6 separate regions of the Homo sapiens genome follow, and regions 1, 2, 3, 4 and 5 are each reported to be linked to region 6. Evidence: microRNA targets listed by miRTarBase, many of them from high-throughput screens and not tested one by one. Region 6 holds a microRNA gene; each other region holds the end of a gene's coding sequence.
Evidence for each region. Region 6 holds the annotated microRNA hsa-miR-877-3p (UCCUCUUCUCCCUCCUCCCAG, at 1,109-1,129, shown strand). A microRNA usually pairs through its seed, bases 2 to 8, with sites in the 3' UTR of a target mRNA and lowers its output. Matches are read on the target gene's strand: a 7mer-m8 pairs with bases 2 to 8, a 7mer-A1 pairs with bases 2 to 7 and ends in A, and an 8mer does both.

Region 1: miRTarBase lists TCERG1 as a target of hsa-miR-877-3p. The part of its 3' UTR that is shown has no 7-base or 8-base seed match.
Region 2: the mRNA of HSPA2 is a reported target of hsa-miR-877-3p. The part of its 3' UTR that is shown has no 7-base or 8-base seed match.
Region 3: the mRNA of RNF10 is a reported target of hsa-miR-877-3p. The part of its 3' UTR that is shown has no 7-base or 8-base seed match.
Region 4: miRTarBase lists CDC123 as a target of hsa-miR-877-3p. Seed matches in the 3' UTR shown: 8mer at 3,252-3,259.
Region 5: miRTarBase lists DZIP1L as a target of hsa-miR-877-3p. Seed matches in the 3' UTR shown: 7mer-m8 at 408-414.

Annotation. Positions count from the first base shown.
Region 1 is chr5:146,510,042-146,514,130 of GRCh38, forward strand. TCERG1 (transcription elongation regulator 1) reads left to right here. Exons shown (of 23, transcript NM_001382548.1): 23 at 400-1,920. The coding sequence ends at 601. It overlaps GPR151 (G protein-coupled receptor 151), which reads right to left. Exons shown (of 1, transcript NM_194251.3): 1 at 3,103-4,089. Among named protein-coding and RNA genes, the nearest start is that of GPR151, 4.1 kb to the right of the region's middle. RefSeq lists a silencer at 591-791.
Region 2 is chr14:64,542,074-64,546,161 of GRCh38, reverse strand. HSPA2 (heat shock protein family A (Hsp70) member 2) reads right to left here. Exons shown (of 1, transcript NM_021979.4): 1 at 2,925-4,088. The coding sequence ends at 3,393. Among named protein-coding and RNA genes, the nearest start is that of HSPA2, 3.4 kb to the right of the region's middle.
Region 3 is chr12:120,576,128-120,580,216 of GRCh38, reverse strand. It overlaps RNF10 (ring finger protein 10), which reads right to left. Exons shown (of 17, transcript NM_014868.5): 17 at 2,629-3,627. The coding sequence ends at 3,551. POP5 (POP5 ribonuclease P/MRP subunit) reads left to right here. Exons shown (of 5, transcript NM_015918.4): 3 at 294-443; 4 at 620-703; 5 at 805-1,453. The coding sequence ends at 899. Among named protein-coding and RNA genes, the nearest start is that of POP5, 3.2 kb to the left of the region's middle.
Region 4 is chr10:12,249,527-12,253,615 of GRCh38, reverse strand. It overlaps CDC123 (cell division cycle 123), which reads right to left. Exons shown (of 13, transcript NM_006023.3): 12 at 3,898-4,035; 13 at 3,027-3,305. The coding sequence ends at 3,279. Among named protein-coding and RNA genes, the nearest start is that of CDC123, 55 kb to the right of the region's middle.
Region 5 is chr3:138,059,082-138,063,156 of GRCh38, reverse strand. DZIP1L (DAZ interacting zinc finger protein 1 like) reads left to right here. Exons shown (of 16, transcript NM_173543.3): 16 at 180-1,167. The coding sequence ends at 341. Among named protein-coding and RNA genes, the nearest start is that of CLDN18, 51 kb to the right of the region's middle.
Region 6 is chr6:30,583,289-30,587,377 of GRCh38, forward strand. MIR877 (microRNA 877) reads left to right here and starts at 1,044; the gene lies at 1,044-1,129. ABCF1 (ATP binding cassette subfamily F member 1) reads left to right here. Exons shown (of 25, transcript NM_001025091.2): 11 at 320-420; 12 at 517-602; 13 at 904-1,043; 14 at 1,130-1,278; 15 at 1,972-2,055; 16 at 2,270-2,394; 17 at 2,591-2,703; 18 at 2,846-3,017; 19 at 3,186-3,260; 20 at 3,353-3,423.

The sequences.
Region 1 (4,089 bases), not on the chromosome of region 6:
AAGACTTCTTTCTACATTTTTATAGTTAATTTAGTGAAAGATGTGAAAGTGAAAGCTTGTGAAAGATGCTGGGATTGGCAGCCCCGCAGACTGAAGTCCTCTGTTCATCCACAGAACAGGTACAGCACGGGCAAGATTTACCCACCCACCCTCAGCCCTGATCTGGAGGGACCACCACTAGGGGTGGGAGGGTAATTCAGCTTCTGAGGCCCTTTCACTCCTTGGAGTCTTTGCTGAGGCGACTTACAAAGGTGACCACTGCCGTGAAATTTTTCTTAAAAAAAAAAAAAAAAAAAAAAATGGAAACACAATTAGGAACTAGATGGACATTTCCAGCTCATTTCTGAAAGACCTGTGAACAGCAGTCAGTAATTCTTGGACTTCTTTTTCTTATTTCAGATCCAAAAAATTAATCCAAGAATCAGATCAGCACCTGAAAGATGTAGAAAAAATTTTACAGAATGACAAACGGTATCTAGTACTGGACTGTGTGCCAGAGGAGAGGCGTAAACTGATTGTGGCATATGTTGATGACCTGGATCGCCGGGGTCCACCCCCACCTCCCACAGCATCGGAGCCCACGAGACGATCAACAAAATAATTCTAAATACTCTTCCATAGGGGCATCTATTCAAAATGCTTGCATGAGCCAATTTTCAGGTTTTTACATATATGTGCATTAGTCAACCTATTGCGAAACCATCTGACAAACAGAAGGAGAAGCATTTGTGAACAGTTTCTGAACAGAACACTTTGGAAATATTTATGCTTTTCTTTGTGTGGCATGACTGACATACATACTCAAATATAGGCTGTCTCTAGTAAATCTTAAAATCTTGAAGCTAAAATTCATCCTTTTATGAGGTGTGGAAGTCAGTGACTTGGTGACGTTCTTCCTAGCAGTGTTAATACATGCAAGAAGTAAGAGCATTTGTGGCTTGAACTTGCCAGATGCAAATACCACAGACTCCAAGAAAACCCGAGTTGGGGTTTGTTTTGTTTTGATTTTTTTTTTTTAAAGCGGGTAAAAGAGAAAACACTGAAAATTGAATTCTTATCTTCCAGAGGCTACAATTATTATAATGGACAATACTTTTACCTTTGTCTCTAAAGATCAGATTAGTTTTATTTGTTCACTTACGTGCTTTGATTATCCCCTCTGAATTATAGACCGAGTCTTGTTGTTTAGCCTAAGAGAAGATTTATGTAGTAATTTCTTCTCAGGTATGGAACCACGGTCATAACTAACATGTTGGCCAGAATAGAACCACTGGTTAAACATATTTTATTCACCATTAAGTGATCTTTATCAATATTCTGGATTAGACAACAAATTACCTTTCTGGGTGTTTCTTGTAAACTATACTCCTGTTTGAATGTTAAACTTTGTTGCTAAAGTTTAATTTTAAGATGTTTGAATGTTCAGTTTATGTATTTGAACTACAATAAACCAACCCTTTTTATATATCTGTATTGTATATGATTATTGTTACTTAATTTTTAAGAGCTTATTTTAACCTGTTTTTAAAAGCAGCAAATAGAATTTCCCACAAAGTAAGTTGACTCTAAATCTTAAGTATTACCTAGTTTTTAAAGGTTTGAATATAATAATGCAGTATTTGCAGTATAAAAAGGAAGGAATTTGTAGAGAATCATTTTGGTGCTCAAGTCTCTTAGCAGTGCCTTATTGCCTCATAGCAAGAAGATGCTGGGGTTTTTTTTGTTTTTGTCCTTTGTATTAATGTATGATGGTTTGCGCCTTTTTGGCATTCTTTCAACATGTCGTGTACATCACACCATGAATCAGTTCCTAATTGATATATCTAGCTTTACCTCCCGAGTTAAAAAAAAATCTTTTTATTTTATGCCTTCATAGGTTGCTCGTTTCAGAGTGCCACATAAATAAAATGTTTAACAAAATATATATGTTAATAGAATAATTTATTTTCCATTATCTCATACCGACTATGATTGTAACAAATCCTAGAAAGAAGGAATACCAACAGATCTGTATTTGTATGTTGTGTGCATACAGTCACAGACACACACATTCACATCCATGTTATATAGTTCATAGCTTAAATCTATTAAGTGCCATGGAAATTTTGTGAACTCTTTATGTAGGAACCTGGCATTGATCAGACTAAGGTCTTCAGCTGTAAAGTTGATAAACAGGATATGTTTTTTCTTTTTATGCGTACAAAGGATCTTACTCTGTCTCCTAGGCTGGGGTGCAGTGGTGCCATCATAGCTCACTGTAACTTTGAACTCCTGGTTTCAGTGATCCTTCTGAGTAGCTGAGACTGCAGGCATGCATTACCATGTCTGGCTTTTTTTTTTTTCTTTTTAAAATTTTTTTGGAAATGGTTTCACTCTGTTGCCCAGGCTGGCCTCAAACTCCTAGCCTCAAGCCATTCTCCCACCTCGGCCACCCAAAGTGCTAGGATTACAGGCGTCAACCGCCACACCTGGCCGCCTTCTGTTTCCTTTTTTTTCTTTCTTTGAAGTTCATTTTATAAGTTCATTGAGTGATTTTTAAGTACTGTGAGGAATGAAATTGAAGTGCTTGCCAAAAGGAGCACAACTATTATGTAGTATGTAGAAATACGACTGTCTCACAAGGGTAAAGTTTCCAGAATGCCTTATTTTGTTATTCTGAATTCCACATAATATTGTTTGCCCACTTACTACGTTGTTTCTCACAGTAGAGAAGTGAGAAGAAAACAGTTTGGTGATATCTGTTCTAATTTCCTACTTTTGTCTTAAAGTATCTGGGTTTGATCAGATAAGATACAAATCAAACTTCTCTAAGCAGATTTTTTAAGGGATCAAGTCGGGACTTAACTTTGTGTATCAGGTTCTTAATGAAAGGTTCATTGTAATTACTCTTTGTTCCAGTGTCTGCATCTTGATTTGGTGCTTGTTAGCAAACTCTGAAAATCAGTTCACCTTGAGACCTGTTCCAGTGTTAAGGTCAAACAGCCCCATAAAGCTCCATTGTTCCTAATAATGATTTTGGAATGATAATTCAAGACAAAGACAGCTTTAAATCTCCAAAAACTATCGGAAGTAAAGCGTAATTATTTTTATTTCTTTACAAGTTTAAAGTGTCAAACCCTGGAAGCTTACATCCTAAATTTACTACATATAATGAACATAAAAATTATTTATTCAAATAATCACAGACAATGATAATCCTTTTTATAACTACCATATCACAAGACAATATTTTGGATTCTTGGGTTAAATTTTACTTTATTTGAATACATGAGCTTCAAATAAAATTTGTAATGAAGGATGTAAAAAGAATACAGCCCTACCTCCTGTGTTAAAAAGCAAACTATGACCACTTATGAAAAAGCAAAGAATCCGGAAACCCATAGACAAAAAGCAAAATCTTTTTTTTTCCATAACATATCCTTTATATTTCAGATTCTCCATGGCTTGGTTTGCCCTAAAGGCATTTCTATTCTGAGGGAAACTTTCAGTGAAAATACCCGAGTTCCATAACAAAGTAATCAAGAATCATGGGTGAATGTCATTATACTTAAAAGGGGCAGAAATATATCATAATCATGTTTTATTGGGTATGTTTTACCTTGCTATAAAATGAATGGTTATTGCCTGTTACTCAGATTTTACCGTATGTCTGGGTACACAGTTTTACTGCTTTCTGCATTGCCCTTATGCTTTTTATTTTGTATTCTTAACCAAATTCTGTCTTGGTTTGTTGAATTTTCTCTTTTTGATATTAATCTCTTTCTCAGGTTGCTAGATTATTTTTATAACTTAGCCTATAGTATTTTAAAAGTTGAGTAGGGTTCAAGTTCAATGTTCTGAGTAAGGGTAAGTTTAGTACCATTAACAAGAAAGATCACCATCTCCATCTTCTATTTGTATTTGAGGAGTAATCTATACCTATATCATTAACCATGGTTTATCTTGGGAGAAAGGAGATATTAGGAGGAACACATTTCTGCTTATAGAAAAATAACTTTCCCACATTTTGGAAGTGAAGAGAGGACATTTTTTTAAGTATTTTTTCCCCCATATCAGACTACTGAATGTCATTGGAAAGCTGCTACAATT
Region 2 (4,088 bases), not on the chromosome of region 6:
TTCAGAAGTTTATTCACACCTATTTATACATTACACAATTGAATATTCCTGCTTCTGAATCCAAACATATATATTCCCTTAACAGTTGAGACATACGGATGTGAGATATTTTTAAACTTCAATTTAAATCGTGTTCAAAAGCAAGAGGAGCATGCCTCACAACACAACCTTTATAAACTACATTCAGTTAAAAGTAAGAATATGTTATAGGTCCACTATTGGAAAATCATAAAAATAGATTTTCTGATTTCATCTAGATAGCCAGGTTGTATTACTGTTTAAGATTATACATAAAAAAGAAATACTCATTAAGTCTCCATTACATATTGAATGGGTAACATAATATTACACATACATGTTAAATTAACAGTTGTAAATTGTACTAAGATCTCCTAATGTACAAGTTTTAATGCATTTTCATTATACATATCAAATCAATACTATAAAAAATTTAAAGTGAGTTTGTTTTGAAATTTCACACATCTCAAATACTGTAAACAACTAGTTATGTCTTCGTTTGACAGGTGTCTATATTTGTTCCCTCAAAACAGGGACAACTATGTTAATCAAACATTCAGATAAGAATTTCAGGTAAGTGGGCTGGCGCGTGGCTCACGCCTGTAATCCCAGCACTTGGGGAGGCCAAGGCGGGCGGATCACCTGAGGTCGGGAGTTCCAGACCAGCCTGACAAACATGGAGAAACCCCATCTCTACTAAAAATACAAAATTAGCCAGGTGTGGTGGTGCATGCCTGTAATCCCAGCTACTCGGTAGGCTGAGGCAGGAGAATCGCTTGAACCCAGGAGGCGGAGGTTGAAGTGAGCCGAGATCAAGCCATTGCACTCCAGCCTGGGCAACAAGAGTGAAATTCCGTCTCAAAAAAAAAAAAAAAAAAAGAATTTCAGATAAGTGCCTGTCGGAGAATCCTTAAACTGTAATTTAGCCCCATCCTAACATCAAGTACTTTTTCCACTGTTATTTGACTATGGCTGATCTAACATCTGCTAAGGAGTTCCCAGGAGTTATCAGGTTACAAGTTTCAACTGACCCCTGGAAAGTGAATGGCTACTTTGGTGGCTTTATCTTGGTAATATGCAAATCTTGGTAAATTTGAAAAGAGAGAATTAAATAAGAAACACTCTCAAGAATGCTCAAGAATGTAAAACTCAAGAATTTGAGTTTTACAAATTACTTTTCAAAATAGAAAATGAAGTATCTGCCCAGATTGATGTTAGTATTATAGCAAGCTACCGGAGGTCAGGCCGTAGGATCAAAAACTACCAATGGTCATTTTCTGATACTTTAGAAACTAATCTCTTAAGTGAGGTCTAAAATGAGTCATACCAAACTGCATTTACAGAAGGACTCCATTATATTTTGAAGTTAGAGCAAGGAATGAACACTTTCAACAAATAAAGGACTAATAAAAGGGTAACAGAATGGGTATTATCTTGGTAAAACTCACAGTAAACGTCACTCTAAAGCTACAATTAACCTGATTTTGTAGTACCATAGTAGTTTGTCACATATTTATGCCTGTAGTCCATGAAACACCCTTAAATGCTCATTGCTGAAAAATTTCCACCAATGTGACACCAGCACTGATAAATTGGAGTTATCTTTAGCTTTTCAGAGTATAAAAAGCAGTTTCCTTTAAAAAAAAAAAAAGGTTTTTATGTTGAAGCAATTTCACTGTTGGCTATTTATCTTCCTCCCCCCTACCCAAATGAGGCTTGCTAAAAAGGAAAAAAAAAAAAACACCTTATGTGTACTTAAGAGTCAACTCTTGTATGAAAGGGTCATTACCAAAGGCCAGTATTCTTAGGCTAACTTCTTAGCTAGTTTTAAAATTATTACTCATTCCATTATTCATAAAATTAATCTCTCTGAATGACACAGATGGGTCCACTACTAAATTGAAGATAAAGCTTTCATAACTATTGTCTTATGAGCAGCATGAAGCAAACCTGCATCATGTGGAAAGATATCAAAACGTCTATGTGCAGTAAAAACATTAGGTTAACTATGCATTTTCCTATTGGTTTTACTGAATTTCTCTCAAGTTCTCCTTAAAGAGAGTAAGAAAAGAGTAGTCATGTCATTTCACTAAAAAATAAAAATGAATTCCTTTCTCTGAAGGATGTGAATTTTAAAGATTAAGTCCAGGATAGTGGATCACCAAAGGGTTGCAATATTCTTATCTATAACAATCTCAAATTGGATATGGAGGAAAATGGACAAGTTGTATATTAACAAAATACAAGACTATCTAGTACAGTTTGCCTTTTAAAAAAGAAATCTATCGTAGTGATTTAAGGCAAGTATTGCAAAAACGTTATGATCCCCAAACCAGAAAAAAATAATAATAATTATGTTTCCCTACCCAAGTAATTCTAACTGCGGGAAACATGTTATTAGAATTTGCCATAAGCTCAGAAGTTGAGCTGTTTTACTAGAAAATTAAACAAGTTTGACTAAATTTATACTCACTATTAAGTCACTTGAAAGCTTGCCTGCTGTCTCTTGTTTCAGGCTCCTGTATGTCACAAAATTAATTTGTTTCCATATTTCCTTTGGCAATTATAAGACAACTTCTGCCCAGCTTTTGTTAAAGGCTCATTTTACATTTAACCCCAGAATATAGCTCATATTTTCCTGGAATATTCAGGTGAATTTTCATTTGGACACTTAAGTTGTAGGAGTGTGAGTACACTAGGAAGACCCCAAGTCAGGTTTCTGTATTTAAGGGTGGGTGAAGTTTACCCAGATTCTTCTCCCCTTAAGTTGTTGGAATTCAAGGCAGCACCCTCATCTGGGAATTAAACAAGATTGGTTAGATAAATTTCACATCATACTAACATCTTAAAAGACGAATATGGGTAAAATATAAAGGAAGGAAAATTGAAAACTCCAAGACAGTAACTTTGAGATCAATTTCAGCTTTACTTTACATTTGCATTTATGCATTTGTTTGCAAAAAGTATACCTGTCCTTAACATTACTGCAATGTTCAGTTTAGTTTTAAAGTAGTACATAAAAATAAACAATTTAAGCTCCTATATATTTTACTGTTTCCAAGCTTCTACAGAACAGGTGTGCAAACTTAAGGTTTCTCATCTCAAACAAATCTCCATGCACGAACTAATCAAAAATGCTCAAGTCAGCAAACACGCAAAATGCATTAAAGAGAAACCTCGAATAATGTTTTTAAAAAACAAACTTTGGAACTTTTATAATTAAACTAAGTTGTTGCACCTCTCCTTTCATTTGCATATACCAAAGACTTCCAACAATAGATCTCGTACTTGGCACAAGGACATTTCAAAGAAACAAACAAAAAAAAAGAGAGAGAGAGAAAGGCAAAGAGGTTTACGCTGACTTGAGTGCAAGCTTAGTCCACTTCTTCGATGGTGGGTCCCCCGGAGGCTCCTGAACCGCCGCCGCCGCTGCCGCCGCCAGGACCACCTTGGTAAAGTTTGCTGATGATGGGGTTGCAAACTCTTTCGAGCTCTTTCTGCTTGTGTTCATACTCATCTTTCTCTGCCATCTGGTTTCGGTCGAGCCAGTTGATCACCTCCTGACACTTGTCGAGGATCTTGTTTTTGTCCTGCTCGCTAATCTTGCCCCTCAGTTTCTCGTCTTCCACCGTCTGCTTGATGTTGTAGGTATAGGACTCCAGGGCGTTTTTGGCCGCGACTCGGTCGCGATTCGCCTCATCTTCCGATTTGTACCGCTCCGCCTCCTGCACCATCCGGTCAATGTCGTCCTTGCTCAGACGACCTTTGTCATTGGTGATGGTGATTTTGTTTTCCTTACCGGTGCTCTTGTCGGCGGCGGTAACGTTAAGGATGCCATTGGCGTCAATGTCGAAGGTAACCTCGATTTGGGGGACCCCGCGAGGCGCAGGGGGAATCCCGGTCAGGTCGAACTTGCCCAGCAGGTTATTGTCCTTGGTCATGGCCCGTTCGCCCTCGTATACCTGCACCAGTACGCTGCTCTGGTTGTCCGAGTAGGTGGTGAAGGTCTGCGTCTGCTTGGTGGGGATCGTGGTGTTCCTCTTGATGAGTGGGGTCATGACACCGCCAGC
Region 3 (4,089 bases), not on the chromosome of region 6:
CTGCTGGAGTGCAGCAGCGAGATCGGGGGTCATTGCTGCCTCTGCCTCCTGGGTTCAGGCGATTCTCATGCCTCAGCCTCCTGAGTGGCTGGAATTACAGGTGCGCACCACCACACCCAGCTAATTTTTGTATTTTTAGTAGAGACGGGGTTTCATCATGTTGGCCAGGCTGGCCTCGAACTCCTGACTTAAAGTGATCTGCCCGCCTCAGCCTCCCAAAGTGCTGGGATTACAGGCGTGAGCCACCACACAGAGCAAAAGTTTTCCAAAATGATTTTTCTTTCCTGTTGTAGTTCGATATCTCAATGCCTATACTGGAATAGTGCTACTTCGATGCAGAAAAGAATTCTATCAGCTTGTGTGGTCAGCTCTTCCCTTCATCACATACTTGGAGAACAAAGGACACCGTTACCCATGCTTTTTCAACACATTACATGTGGGAGGTAGGAGTGAGGTGGTATGGCTACTGATTTTCAATTGGTGACACGTTCACAGTTCAGTCTAAACTGGTGGGTGGGTCTTGCTGCTGTCCCGCTAACAAGACACTTCCCCCTACCTCTGAAAGTCTGTAAGGTCGAGATCTTTCACAAGCTGTTGACCACAGTAACTCATATGCCAGGTACAATAAGAACATGTCAGAAGTTCCTAATTCAGTACAACAGGAGACAGCTGTTGATCTTGTTGCAGAACTGCACTGATGAAGGTAAGCAACACTAGCCCAGTGCCCACTGAGCAGTGACTGACCTTAAGCTGAAGAAATCACTCCCAAAGATATCTTTCATCCCTGTTATCTGCCTTCTCCAGGAGAGCGGGAAGCTATCCAGAAGTCTGTGACAAGAAGCTGCTTATTAGAGGAGGAGGAGGAGTCAGGTGAGGAGGCTGCAGAAGCAATGGAGTGAACCTCTGCTCCCCACACAGCTGGCTACACTGCTCAGGCTTCAGGCCCACTTGTTGAACAGAACAATCTGGGTAGCAACAGCATCTTCCACAGTTTTCCAAACTGGATAGCTGCCAACCAGCAGACATTACCCACTTGAAATGGAGTACTCAGTTAAACTGAAGTTGCCTTTACCTAGCATTCCCTGGTGAAGTGTTGCAGGTTGTGAACTCTGTAGACATCTTTATTGCTTGGCTAAGAGTAGATTTAATAAATGTATCTGGTTTCCGTGGCATTTAGCATACTTATATTACAGAAAGGGCTTATGGAGTCCATGCTTGGCCAAGTCTCTGTTCTCTCTCTATCCCTAGCCTTGGTGGGAAGACTGACTCCCTATGTGGTACTAGTTAAACTTTTTTTTTTGAGACAGTCTCAGTCTATCACCCAGGCTGGAGTGTAGTGGCCCAGTATCGGCTCACTGCAACCTCCGCCTCCTGGGTTCAAGCAATTCTCCCACCTCAGCCTTCCAAGTAACTGGGATTACAGACGTGCACCACCACGTCTGGCTAATTTTTGTATTTTTAGTAGAGACGGGGTTTTGCCATGTTGGCCAGGCTGCTGTTGAACTCCTGGCCTCAAGTGATCGGCCTACCTTGGCCTCCAAAAGTGCTGGGATTAAAGGGTGAGCCACTGTGCCTGGCCTAAATTTTCAATACTTAGCCTTCTACCTGAAGCTTTGTACCCCCGGCCCCATGATGGGCCCTAAGCAAGCCAAGTCATTTGGAATAGAAATATTAGTTGAGACACAGCAACTGAACTGGCAGAGATCTACAGCCCATCTCAGTACTGAACCACAGGGTCTTACAGATACCAGATTCCTTGCCAATAGTTAATCAGGTAACTTAAAAAATACAACTTTGGGCCGGGCGCAGTGGCTCACACCTGTAATCCCAGCACTTTGGGAGGCTGAGGCGGCCAGATCACAAGGTCAGGAGATCAAGACCATCCCGTCTAACGCAGTGAAACCCTGTCTCCACTAAAAATACAAAAAATTAGCTGGGCATGGTGGTGGGTGCCTGTAATCTCAGGTACTCAGGAGGCTGAGGCAGGAGAATGGCGTGAACCCGGGAGGCAGAGCTTGCAGTGAGCTGAGATCCCACTACTGTACTGCAGCCTGGGCTAGAGCGAGACTCTGTCTCAAACAAAAAATGCAACCTTTGCAGTTGGGGGGGGCGCGGGTGCTGGCCTCATCTGACATCATTACTGCATGGTCATGTAGCAGCTGTCCACTTAAGGAACTTAAGGTAGTTTTTGTAGTTCCGCTCTTATTGCGCCTGAATACAAGGCGCCCTGAAGACAAGTCAGACTGCCATACTCACAGGAAGTAGGAATGGCGGGAGACTTGTGATCCAGGTTTGATCTGCTACCTACTGACATTTCTGGGATCTGTTTTCTCCATAATACAATGGATGAGACTGAAAGTACCATACACATTTAACAGAAACACTGGTGATTCTGGCTTCAACATGCCCCCTCATCTGGAGGCCAGAACACCCTCATCCATCCAGGAAATTTCCTGATAGGATTTCTTTTAAAATGGCAGGTTAAAGCTAAGCCCAGCTCTAGAACCATTTAAACCTGACACCAGAAAAGACAGCCTACAATATCATAGTAGCTGTCACGTTAACCTATTCAAGAAATAACTTGTCTAGCTTACCTGTAATGAACTTAAAAAAACAAAAAGCTCACAATGCTTGTGCAGGTGATTTATTGCAACTATTTGCCTTCGCATTCTAATGCACCTAGAGGTCACTTTATTAAGCAGCAAAAGAATTCACATCAAATTCAGCTCAAACCAAGGCATAAGAAAACTGCTCTAGATGAGAGGGAGATGGTGGCAATGCTACCGCTTCAGATGGCCCTGCTCTCCTGCAGCTGTACCAGACTCCTCCTCCTATGACTCAAGCCAGTCACTGAAAACAAGCTCGATCTTAGGGGTAGCAGGTCTCAGGGCTTCGTGAGTTACAGCTTTCCTTACCAACTCAAGCCATGCTCAAGAAGAGGCAAAACCCTCCTTTCACACATGCAAGTGCCAAGGACAGCCTACTCCATTAAGCTGGCACCACAGCCTGGCCATGTGTCAGAAAAAAAAAAACTGCAATTCAAACTGGGTGTCCTAAATCCATTTTATTCCCACCCCTGTTTCTTTAACAAGGAGAACTAAATAGGTAGTAAAGATTCAGCTGTTTTTTAAAAGACAAACTGAGAGGTGTACTGAGTCCAGGAAGCCCTGACATGATGCTACAGCAGAGCAGTGTGTGCCATTCTGGGTTGGACTGCTCTAATGCATCTCAAAGGGGACTCAATCTTACTTTGGGTTGAGAAAAATTAATTACACATGGGTCAAAAAGACTAAACTGGCAATGAACTAAAAACCTTGGCAGGAAGAGATCTCTTGTGTCAATACTTTATTTTGGTGTAAAGACAGGAAGCTGGAAAATACACTGTATTTAAAATTTTCTTGGTTCCCCCTCACATTGTGGAAACCCCCTCCCCCCAGAGCTAATCTGTTCAAACTCAAATACTTAAAAATTACAGCAGCCAAACAAAAGCATGGGGGAAAAAAAAACAAAAACAAAAACCAGATGGAGAAGGTAGCCTGGGCCAGTAGTGTCACTTGGTGTGGACGACTGAGGTGCTGAACAGGAGCTTCTGTTTCTGTTTTTTTCTTTTCTTTCCTCCTTTCTCTTCTAAAGGGAGACACAGAAAGACAGCTTAACTTAAAATGCCATCCCTTGTCCCCTGGCCAGTTTTCATTACTGAGAGTCACAGAGTGGGAGCTAAGAGTGGAGGCTCTGGAATTAGACTGCCTAGATGCCAATACCAGTCTTGGTATACACCAAGTGGGTGTCTTTGGGCAAATCACTTTTACCTCCCTGGACCTCAGTTTCCCCATCTGTAACGTGAGGTACACCCATTTAACGTGGTTGTTGGGAGAATTAGCACAGTGCTAGGCACATAGCACGCCATACATATGTGATTCTTGTCTAGTCATGAACAGAGTGCAACAGGCTTCGAGACTGACTTCTCCATCTAATTAGCCACCCTGTACCAACTCAAGATTCTAAAGGATACAGGTTGTACACCCCACTGTATCTTGGAAGAGTTCCTCAGAATTTCACTTTCAGGCGTCATCAATTTCTCTGGGGTGG
Region 4 (4,089 bases), not on the chromosome of region 6:
GAGCAGTTTCGTCATCTGTCAAAAAAGAAAAGAAGGGACTGGGCGTGGTGGCTCACACCTGCAATCCCAGCACTTTGGGAGGCTGAGGTGGATGGATCACCTGAAGTCAGGAGTTTGAGACCAGCCATGGTCAACATGGCGAAACCCCGTCTCTACTAAATATATATATATATTTTTTTCTTGACTCTGTTAAAAAGAACGTGCCTTTCATATACTGTACAGAAGTCTGCCAAGCAGAATGATTGACAATAGCTACCATTTGTCTGTGGTCTGTGACGTGCAGTGCACTACGCTACAGGTTTATGAGTTATCTCACTTAACGGACTCCAGAAAACTCTTCTTACCCTTTGCAGGTAACAAACTTAGTCAAAAAAACTGTCACATAAGGTTTCTGCTTGTTTTTTAACGATCCTCAATCATCAAAAAGAGAAATGGTTGAGATGAGAAAACCTTACGAACTCAGAAAATGCAAATCAAATGAGACTCTTGAAAACAAAACTGGCAAAGCGTGCTGTCTCCAGGAGGCCCATGCGACATGACACCACCTGCAGGACAAAGCACATATTTACCCCAACCCTTCAAAGGCAACTGCAGCAGCGTCTTCTCTTCAGAAGGAAGGACTGCAGGGACACGCTGAGGAAGCACACAGGTTTCCATTTTCTGAATTCAAGCACAAGCCTGAGGTACCTCAAAGAAAGAACAAATGCCAGTAAAATAAAAGGACGATTCAAAACTTAAGAGCTGGGCGCGGTGGCTCACGCCTGTAATCCCAGCACTTTGGGAGGCCGAGGCGGGCGGATCTCTTGAGGCCAGGAGTTTGAGATCAGCCTGACTAACATAGTGAAACCCCATCTCTACTAAAAACACAAAAATTAGCTGGATGTGGTGATGCATACCTGTAATCTCAGCTACTCAGGAGGCTGAGGCAGGAGAATTGCTTGAACCCAAGAGGCAGAGGTTGCAGTGAGCTCAGATCGTGCCACTGTATTCCAGCCTGGGAGATAGAGTGAGACTCTGTCTTAAAACAGAAGTAATTTTTAGGCAGGCATAAATTATACTGGGCTTTAGGAGAATATTTCCTGCATAGTATCCTATATTTCCTGATATTAACATCAGGAAAATCAACTAAAATTAAATACACTAAGTAAACAATGCACAAAAATCACATTTTAGAAAGTGACCTGGGAGTTGAAGTCCAGTTTCCCCAGGAAAATGTGCGCAAAAGTGTAATGAGAATTGTACAGTTTATGAACTCTCTGCCAAATTTTGCTTGGGTCTTTTTATTTTATATAGTCTGAATATAGTTTTCTTTTTTGTGGGGGATGGAGGCTCGCTCCGTCACCCAGGCTGGAGTGCAGTGGTGCAATCTCAGCTCACTGCAACCTCCGCCTCCCAGGTTCAAGTCATTCTTCTGCCTCAGCCTCCCAAGTAGCTGGGACTACAGGCGCCCACCACCACACCCAGCTAATTTTTGCATTTTTAGTAGAGATGGCATTTCACCATATTGGTCAGACTGGTCTTGAATTCCTGATCTTAGATGATCTGCCGGTCTCGGGCTCCCAAAGTGCTGGGATTACAGGCATGAGCCACCACATCCAGCCTAGTCTGAATGTTTTCAATTGGTATCAAATATATTTACTTTTTTTTTGGCTTGGTAAAATGCCATCTTGACAAAGCCAGCTTCCAGAGCTAAACTTAAAATCAACCCTTGATACTAAATCCATCATAGGTGGATAGGCACCTGTAAGCAGTTTAAAAAAACAAAAGTATTTCTGAAGTACCTGTACATTAAACAGTTGAGGCCAGGGGCGGCGGCTCACACCTGTAATCCCAGCACTTTGGGAGGTCGAGGCAAGCAGATAACCTGAGGTGAGCAGTTCAAGACAAGCCCCATCAACATGGAGAAACCTCATCTCTACTTAAAATAAAAAATTAGCTGGGCATGGTGCCACATGCCTGTAATCCCAGCTACTCAGGAGGCTGAGGCAGGAGAATCGCTTGAACCCAGGAGACAGAGGTAGCGGTGAGCCAAGATGGCACTATTGCACTCCAGCCTCGGCAACAAGAACAAAACTCCATCTCAAAAACAAACAAAAAAACAACTGGCCCCACAAATGGCAATTGAGGCCAGACACAGTGGCTCACACCTGTAATCCTAGCAGTTTGGAAGGCTGACGCAGGAGGATTGCTTAAGGCCAGGAGTTTGAGATCAGTATGGGCAACACAGGGAAACCCCATCTCTACTACTTAAAAAAAAGAAAAAAAGGGCATCTGATGTACTGAATACAAAGATCAAGTACTGAGGACGAAGATTACCACCGGATACCACGTCGGGCAGGTACCCTGGGAAATTGTGATGTCTGTATCCTTCAAATTGCTTGGTGATGTCAACTAATACAGAAAGAGCTCTTAGTAGAATGTCTGGCACATCATAAAGCCTCGGTAAATTAGGCACAATTGATATCATCACTTAAAAATGGTGGCCTTTTAAAAACGCCACATGGCAAAACCCCATCTCTACAAAAAAATACAAAAATCAGCTGGGCGTGGTGGTGTGCACCTGTAGTCCCAGTTACTCAGGAGGCTGAGGCAGGACTGCCTGAGTCCAGGAGATTGAGGCTGCAGTGAGCTGTGATTGTGCCACTGCACCCCAGACTGGGCAACAGAACAAGACTGTCCCTAAACAAAACAGGGCGGGCGTGGTGGCTCACACCTATAATCCCAGCACTTTGGGAGGCCAAGGTGGGCAAATCACTTGAGGATCAGGAGTTCCAGACCAGCCTGGCCAACACGGTGAGACCCTACCTCTACTAAAAATATAAAACTCAGCTGGGTGTGGTGGCATGCACCTGTAATCCCAGCTACTTGGGAGCCTGAGGCAGGAGAATCGCTTGAACCAGGAGGTGGAGGTTGCAGTGAGCCGAGATCGCACCAGTGCACTCCAGCATGGGCGACACAGCGAGACTGTCTCAAAAAATTAAAATTAAAATAAATAAATAAAATAATGACTCGGTAGAAAAGCAACGTATTTCATAGAAAGCATTTTATTATCAGAACAGTATGGTTTTCCTATGTTTAAGATCTATTTATTATGTTATTTTTACAAGTAGCAAAGTCCCTCCGTTTTTTTCCCCAGGTGAATGTACATGAATATAAAAAGTGGCTGATGTCCACACTGCTCGGCCCACCCGCATCAGGGTCGGCAGGAAGTTGCGGCTGATGAGCAGCTCCCGGAGCGGTGGGGCGGGGCCTCCTCTTCTCCAGTTCCAGTACGCTCATCAGTCGTCCTCCTGCTGATTTCTCTTCTGTCAAAGAAAACCAAGGGGATGTTAAAATAGCACATGCTCCTTGGGATATCTGCTCAGCAGGTGTAATTTTCTAGAGGTCTTGGCAAAGGATGTAATTAAAAATTGTCATGGAAAACCATGCTTTAATTCATTAAACTAGTTTATCACTTTGACTCCTGAGCAAATTATCCTCAGGTATTTGAGTATTTTCTTCTCTTTCTTCCATACATACAAAAACTCCTACACAGAAATCCACACAAAAATATAAATATTCACATCCCCTCTTGAGTAAAATCACCACCAGAGCAGAGACCTGCTCTCCTTACAGCCTTCTAACAATATACACACTTTCTTCAAAGTTACAAGTATTTTGAAAAATGTTCAAAAGGCATGTACAGCATAAAAACATTTTCTGTCATTCTAATCAATAAATTATGCCTTCAGCTCCTATTTCATATTTAATTAGAAAATGCTCTAACTCAGTAACTTGGTTCCATTCATAACCATCAAAGTCTAGGTGATACAGGATTCCAATGAAATATTATATAAAAGCCAATTTGAAGGTCTATTTGAAAAGATGGCCAGCATACTAAATGCACATAGACTTTACCAGCTTAAGGAAGTCTATTAGCTTGTGAGCGTCCTCCCCAGTAGAGAGGTCTACAAAGTCCTTGGGTAGCCGGTAACTCAAATAGGGGCTGGGCTGGACTGTCACTTCACTGTTTGTGCAACGGAAAGCTGGGGAATCCTGTACAAAGAAGAAAAAGGAGAAAGAATATCAATCATTTATTTTTAGGCCTAT
Region 5 (4,075 bases), not on the chromosome of region 6:
GGTTCTCAAAGGCAGGAAGACTTGAGAAGTCAGGAGGAGTAGCATCTCCCTATTGCTTTCTTCCCAGTCTGCATTTGTCCCCATTTCCATTCTGCATTCCCATCCTGCAATGTGCTTAGCTCTCAGCCACCCTCCTCCCTTATCAAAATGCATTTTCTTCTCCCCTTTACCCCCTGCAGCTTTCTGAAGATGAGAGTGACTTGGAGATCTCCTCCTTGGAAGATCTTCCTCTGGACCTGGACCAGAGAGAGAAACCCAAGCCCTTGTCTCGCTCAAAGCTCCCAGAGAAGTTTGGCACTGGTCCACAGAGCTCTGGCCAACCCAGGGTCCCTGCCTGGTGATTCACCCCAGAAGCTAGCTGGCTAGAGGGTTAGCCTGGCTGGGGCCAGCTCAGGTCCACTTCAACAGAAGAGGCTGCTGGGCCTCTTGTCTTCACAAACAACCAAGAGATCATCCTCTTGGAGAGAAGCAGTGCAGGGAATGGATATGATCTCATCCCTCCTGACCTGTGAGGGGCCCTGCTGTAGATGGCCACAGGTGCCTGACTAGGAGCCCCTAGGTCCCCAGGCTTGAGAAAGGGTTAAAATAGAACCTCCAGGTAGTTTTCTTCCTCTACCTCCACATCCCCCCAAGACTGAAAAGAGTCACTAACTCTCTTTTCCCAAGCCTTTTATAAAACTGCAGGAACACTGTGGAGATGGTTCCTATCTGGGGTCCTTTTGGGGACATATGCCTCAGTCAGTCATTCAGTGATTGATCCAAAATTATTTACTGAGTGCCTACCTACTCTGCGCCAGGCTCTCTAGCCTCTCACTACTGAGTTAGGGTGCAGGCAGAGGCTGGGGCAGAATGTTTACAGCCAGTGCCAGCACAAGGTAGTAATCTAGTGACAGAGAACAGGGTGTTATGGGGAGCATATGAGAGGCCATCTATCCCAGCCTGGGTGATCCTGGAGAGTTTCCCAGGGTTGTGATATGTGGCAGGCCTACTCATGGGTGGGAAGGGAGGATGGCCACTTGGCTGGACCTTGTATCCCCAAAGGACCACACGTGTAATTTTTGATATTATTTCCAAAATCAGGTTTTATACATAGCCATTGTATATTTTTAGTGTGAAAAACATTAATATATTATATGCAAACATTTAAATATAGTACAATGTTTTTAACTCTGGTATGTATTTCATTATTTTTGGAGCTTTCAGGGGGTTGGGAGGGAAGGAAGCAACTGCATCTTAATTGTGTCAGTTTAGGTCTTTTGGGACATGGTTGCCAAGATGGAGTTATTGAGGAGCTGCACTTGGGAAAGAAAAGGAGGTGGAGGTAGGATCCAGTGGGGAAAGGCCGCAGACTGCAATGCACACCTGACCACTGTGAACAGAAAGAGAGAAGGAAGCTGGAGGAGCCAGGAGAACTCAGGGCATTGATGTGTTGACAAGGTCTCCACTGACCCAGTGGGGAGCTCCTGAGCAAGAACTGCCCACTTGGGAGTCCCCATTGTGCAGAAATGGCCAGGCTCTCATGCCTGCACTGCACTTGGCCATTGGCTGGGGTGGCCCAGACTGAATGAGACCTTGACTTGAAAGCTGGAGTGAACCTTGGAGTGAACCTGTCAGTCAATTTCATTTCTCCTGGTTGAGTGGCATTTTTTTTTTTTTTTCCTGAAAGGGAGACCTAGCAAAGAACCTCCATCCCTGACACAGCAAAGATCTATTTTTAACTTTTTGTTATGGAAAGTTTCAAACACATATATGAGTAAAGGGAATAGTGTGATGAACCCATGTGCTCATCACTGGGCTTCAAATATTATCAGCTCAACTCAAGGTCAATCTTGTTTCATCTATTACCACCTCCAACTCACCCAGACTTCCTTTGACCTTTGGGTGGTCCTGACACCTGGAGAGGCCTTGAAGTTCTCGTAGGAAGGTGATGGAGGAAACACACTGCAGGGAGCAAAAGGGGTCTGGTGGTGGAGTAGGGTAGCTGGGGGAGGGGGCAGGCTGGGGGTGTTGTCGTACAAAGGAAGCTGCTCAATGAGGAAGCTCAGGAGAGCTGGAGAGCTGATGCTACCAGATCAGCCCACAATCTTGATGGGATGGGAGTTGATGAGTAATTGCTCCAGGCTTCCTGTGCTTCTGTGGGGCACCTCTGAGTTTTATTCTGCACAGTTTCTCAGAGTCCCTTGTGGGATTGAGTGCTAGTTCTCACTAGTATGCAGTTACTATTATTAATGCATAGTTCATCGGCCTTCCTCTTTTCTGTTTCATTTTTCTCACTCCCTTACTTCTTTCTCTTATGAGCACCTCTGAGGTAAATTAATCTGCACCCAAGTCCTTGTTTCTAGCTCCACTTTTGGGGGAATGCAAATGTAAACAGTAAATGTGTTTGGACTTGTGTGCACACACTGGTGATGATTATCAATGAGAATGTCTCTGTTCTTGAATGTTCATCATTACGTTATATGTTTCCAAATGGGTTTTTCTATCTACTTTGGAGGGTTTGACTAACGTATTACTTTGGTGTTTCTATGCTGTGTTCACCCCTTCCCATTTTCAAATATATTTTAAAATTCTTTAGTAAGTTGTATTAGGTCTCAATAGAAACAGAACTAGTAGGATATATGGATAGATAGATACTTATGGGTATTTATTAGCCAGTTTCCCTAATAAATGACAGGGGATTTATTAAGGGAATTAGCTGATGTGATCACGGCATAGGCTGTCTGCAAACTGGAGAATGAAGGAAGCTGGTAGAGTGGCTCAGTCTAAATCCGAAAGCCGGAGAACCTGGGACTGTTGGTGCAGGTCCTGGGGCCTGAGAACCTGGAGTTCTGACATCCAAGGACAGAAGCTGGGTGTCCCAACTCCAGAGAGAAAGCCTTTCTATATAGGCTGGCAGCAGATTGGATGGTGTCCCCCACAATGGGAGAGGGCAGATTTTCCTCACTCAGTTTACTGATTCAAATGCTAATCTCTTCTGGAAGCACCTTCTCAGACCTACTCAGAAGTAATGCTTCACAGCTGTCCAGGTATCTCTTGCTCTCATTAAATTGAACTAAAATTAACCAGCACAAGATTTGCCAGAACTGTGGAACGTATGTAACAGATCATTTAAAAATTAGACAAATGATAAGGTTGATACAGAAAAATTAGAAAATACAGATAATCAAAAAGAATATAACCCACAAATTCAGTCAATTATTGTTAACATCTAGATGTACATGCACTGGTGAAAAAAAAAACTCCTTCCTAGGGTTCAACTATATTCTTCTCTAGCTTGATTTTCTCCTGGAAAACAGATTACAAATGTCTTTATATCAGTACACATGTACATGTCAGTACGTATAAATATAAGACAGTTATATATAATGGCCACCTCGTATTCCAGGCAAAGATTACAAAAGTTTTTTTAACCAGACATTTCTACTTTTTGCATTTTATAAATCATGAAGTGATTAAAAAAATGTGTATATGTGTCTTTGTGCACTTGATTAAGATTTCCTTAAAATAAATTCTTAGAAGTGAGGTTGCTGGGCCAACATAATAATGAAAGCCAGCACCATATGCCAGGCACTGGTCCAAGTTTGGTACCAATATTATGATTTAGCCTCACAGCAGCCCTTGAGATGGATGCCACTATTATAGTACATGCATTTCATGGGCTAGGAATTGAGGTACACAGCAGCTAAGAAACTTGTTTTGGGTCCTGCCACCAGTGAGTGGTGTGACTGCAATCTGACTTTGGCAGCCTGGCCCTGGCACTCTAGCTCCTTTCCCCATGTACTTTTGTTACATATTGCCAAATGCTTTCCAGAAAACTGGAGCCAATTTAGTCTACTAGTGTTTGGAGCACACAAGAAAGCTAGTTTTTGCATTCCCTTGCTACCAGGGATATCATTAATCTTTCAATGTTTTGGCCACGTGATACGTGAAAAATGAAACCTCACCTTTTAAGAAACTTGCATTTTTAAGATTTCTTCTAAAGTAAAATTATTTTTTATTTCTTTTTCATGTTGGTTGTTGCTATTTCTTCTTTTATGAGTTGCCCGTAGTTCACTTTTCTTGTTGCTGTTTTCTT
Region 6 (4,089 bases):
GGGAAGAAAGATTGGAGGCATTTTCCACACCTTAGGTTCTGCCAACTTGAGCAAGAAGATAGAAAAACCAGTAGAAGTGGGGTCCACCCTTGGCAGAAAATAGTGTGGGACAGACTAGACTAGCTGAGGATGCATGGGGCTCCCATTACAGGCAGCGAACAGGGCGGGGACCGGCTGTGGGGAGAGGAAGGGGATTATGCTGGAGGTAGCGGTTTGTCAGAGGCTTCCCTGCAGGGAGAAAGTGGCCGCTCCTGTCCCAAAGGGAGAATTTTCATGTGATCATCCCTTCCCTCTGCCACCTCTTTCCTGATGGCTGCAGCTGGAGAAGTTCAGCATCTCCGCTCATGGCAAGGAGCTGTTCGTCAATGCAGACCTGTACATTGTAGCCGGCCGCCGCTACGGGCTGGTAGGACCCAATGGGTGAGAAGAGGAGGGAGCTGGAGGCAAAAAAGGGCCTGGAGGGAAAAGAAGAGATTTCTCAGTGGTGGCCAGGTCCTAATAGCTTTTATTCCCCAGCAAGGGCAAGACCACACTCCTCAAGCACATTGCCAACCGAGCCCTGAGCATCCCTCCCAACATTGATGTGTTGCTGTGTGAGCAGGGTGAGACCACTGGGGAGAAAAGGGGCTTGGTGGGGTGGGCAGTTGGGTAGAAAAGCCAGCCAGCCAAGAATAGAAGAAATTGTGGCTATGGAGTTGGAAGGGATGTGGAGGGAGACTGGAGACCGGGAAAGGGATGCTAAGGAAAGGAGGGGAGGGTCAATGAGGAACTTGAGAGTGTTTTATTTGGAACAAGTACAAAGAGCTGGGCAGGGTCAGGCAAAACAGAAATGTAATTGAAGGGAAAGAAAGATGAGACTCTTGGCTCTTGAGGCTGCCTGACTGTTCTCCCTCTGCCTCCCAGAGGTGGTAGCAGATGAGACACCAGCAGTCCAGGCTGTTCTTCGAGCTGACACCAAGCGATTGAAGCTGCTGGAAGAGGAGCGGCGGCTTCAGGGACAGCTGGAACAAGGGGATGACACAGCTGCTGAGAGGCTAGAGAAGGTAGAGGAGATGGCGCAGGGGACACGGGCAAAGACTTGGGGGTTCCTGGGACCCTCAGACGTGTGTCCTCTTCTCCCTCCTCCCAGGTGTATGAGGAATTGCGGGCCACTGGGGCGGCAGCTGCAGAGGCCAAAGCACGGCGGATCCTGGCTGGCCTGGGCTTTGACCCTGAAATGCAGAATCGACCCACACAGAAGTTCTCAGGGGGCTGGCGCATGCGTGTCTCCCTGGCCAGGTGGGCCATTCACCTCACTGCCCTCCCTTCCAGCCTCAGACCACCGGGGCCCTTTTCCTCTTTCCCTTCTCATTCTTCCAAGGCCAATAGGGAGGCTCAAGGCTTACCTCTCCCTCCTTACTATCTGTGTTGTGAGAACTTAGGGTCTTTCTCTATTTATCTCCCTACTTGGTGGTGAGTTCTCATCAACATACCCTGCAGCTGGGTGCAATGGGTCACGCCTGTAATCCCAGCACTTTGGAAGGCAGAGGCAGGAGGATTATCTTCAACCCAGGAGTTTGAGACCAGCCTGGGCAATATAGTGAGACTCTATCTTCACAAAAGGGGGAAGAAAACATATCCTAGCCTGGGCAACATAGGGAGACCCTGTCTCTACAAAAAATTTAAAGATCAGCTGGATATGGTGGCGCACGCTGTGGTCACAGCTACTCTGGAGGCTGAAGTAGAAGTATCACTTAGACCTGGGAGATTTAGACTACAGTGAGCCCTTATTGTGCCACTGCACGACAGCCTGGGCAACAGGGCGAGACCCTGTCTCAAAAAAATTAAACCGTATCCTGCCCGAGAACTTCTCTGAGGAGAGCTTGGGAAGGAGTGTTCATGGTCTCAGGCTCTATCTCCGAGTTTTCTCTGGGGTTGTCTGAGCAAGGATCTTTCTCTCCCTGACCCTGCCCTCTGCTACCCACCCTCTAGGGCACTGTTCATGGAGCCCACACTGCTGATGCTGGATGAGCCCACCAACCACCTGGACCTCAACGCTGTCATCTGGCTTAATAAGTGCGTTACGGCCTTTGCATCATTGGTTCCCATTCTGCACTTTCTTCCCCTTCCCTCCCTGCCCTGTTTTCCTTTAGCCCTTCTCCACTGTGCCTGTGAGTGGAGCTCTATTCAGACCCCCCTTTCCCTCCCAGCCCCCGTTGTCTGCCTGCTTCCTCTGAATTCTCTCTCACTTGACCACTGTGACACTTACACCCTGTTCTCTGAAACCCAGCTACCTCCAGGGCTGGCGGAAGACCTTGCTGATCGTCTCCCATGACCAGGGCTTCTTGGATGATGTCTGCACTGATATCATCCACCTCGATGCCCAGCGGCTCCACTACTATAGGGGCAATTACAGTAAGTAGGATTGTGTGTGGATGCAGGGAAGAGATAGAACCTCGAAAAGAGGCCTGAGTGGGAGGGCCTATTTAGATAAACTGAATCCTGTCAGAATTCCAGACAGTGATGCCTACCCCATCACCACCAGTCCCTGGTTGTCCCTTTGCTGGGAAGAGGAGCAACCACTGATGCCTGGTCCCCTCTTCTGCCCCAGTGACCTTCAAAAAGATGTACCAGCAGAAGCAGAAAGAACTGCTGAAACAGTATGAGAAGCAAGAGAAAAAGCTGAAGGAGCTGAAGGCAGGCGGGAAGTCCACCAAGCAGGCGGTGAGCACCTGAGGGACTTCTGGGCTGGGGGCCACTGTTCTCTCCTGGCAGTGGAGGAAGAAGGAGACTCTGGAACGCTGGCCTACATTTCAAGGACTGCCGCGCAGGGCTCAGGTTTCTCTTTTTTCCTCTTCCTCTCCAGGAAAAACAAACGAAGGAAGCCCTGACTCGGAAGCAGCAGAAATGCCGACGGAAAAACCAAGATGAGGAATCCCAGGAGGCCCCTGAGCTCCTGAAGCGCCCTAAGGAGTACACTGTGCGCTTCACTTTTCCAGACCCCCCACCACTCAGCCCTCCAGTGCTGGGTCTGCATGGTGAGTGCCGCGGGCCTCTGCTGCTCCACAGGAAGCACCGGAAGCATGTATGTGCACCCTAAATTCTCCACCAAGGCTGAGATTGCTCCTGTTCTCCAAGGCCAGCACATGAGAGGGACTTTGCAGGGACTGAAAAGAATATAAATTGCTTCTTTTCGTGGCTTTCAGGTGTGACATTCGGCTACCAGGGACAGAAACCACTCTTTAAGAACTTGGATTTTGGCATCGACATGGATTCAAGGAGTGAGTTGGCGGGGTTGCCTCAGGGATGTGTAGCAGGAGCCACAGGGAGAGTCTCTGGGGACCTCTTTGACCACCTGTCTTCCATCTTGCAGTTTGCATTGTGGGCCCTAATGGTGTGGGGAAGAGTACGCTACTCCTGCTGCTGACTGGCAAGCTGACACCGGTGAGTCCTGGAGCCAAGGAGGGAGAGCATGAGAAATGTGAAGACACAGCTGCTTTTGCCAGAAGCTGGAATCAGGGAGCCTCTCGAGAATGTAGAGTTAAATACAGAACTCATGATAGATGATTCATTTCCCTAAGAGGGGCAGTAGAGGAGGAAAGAGCTTAGATCAGTTCAGGGGGGAGAGCTAAGAGAATTAAGATAGAACTAGGGGGCACACCCACGTGTTTTGGTTATACAAGAAATATATGTCTTTTATAGAACGATTAAAAATTGCATAAACGGGCCAGGCACAGTAGCTCACTCCTATAATCCCAGCAGGGATCACCTAAGGTCAAGAGTTCCAGACCAGCCTAGCCAACATAGTGAACCCCGCCTCTACTAAAAATACAAAAATTAGCCGTGTGCGGTGGCGCGCACCTATATCCTAGCTACTCAGGAGGCTGAGGCAGAATTGCTGGAACCTGGGAGGCGGGGGTTGCAGTGAGCTGAGATTGCACCATTGCACTCCAGCCTGGGCAACAGAGCGAGACTCCATCTCAAAAAAAAAAAAAAAAATTGGCCTGGCGTGGTGGCCCACGCCTATAATCCCAACTCTTTGGGGGAGGCTGAGGCAGGCAGATCACTTGAGCTTAGGAGTTAAAAACCAGCCTGAGCCCAGTGTGGTGG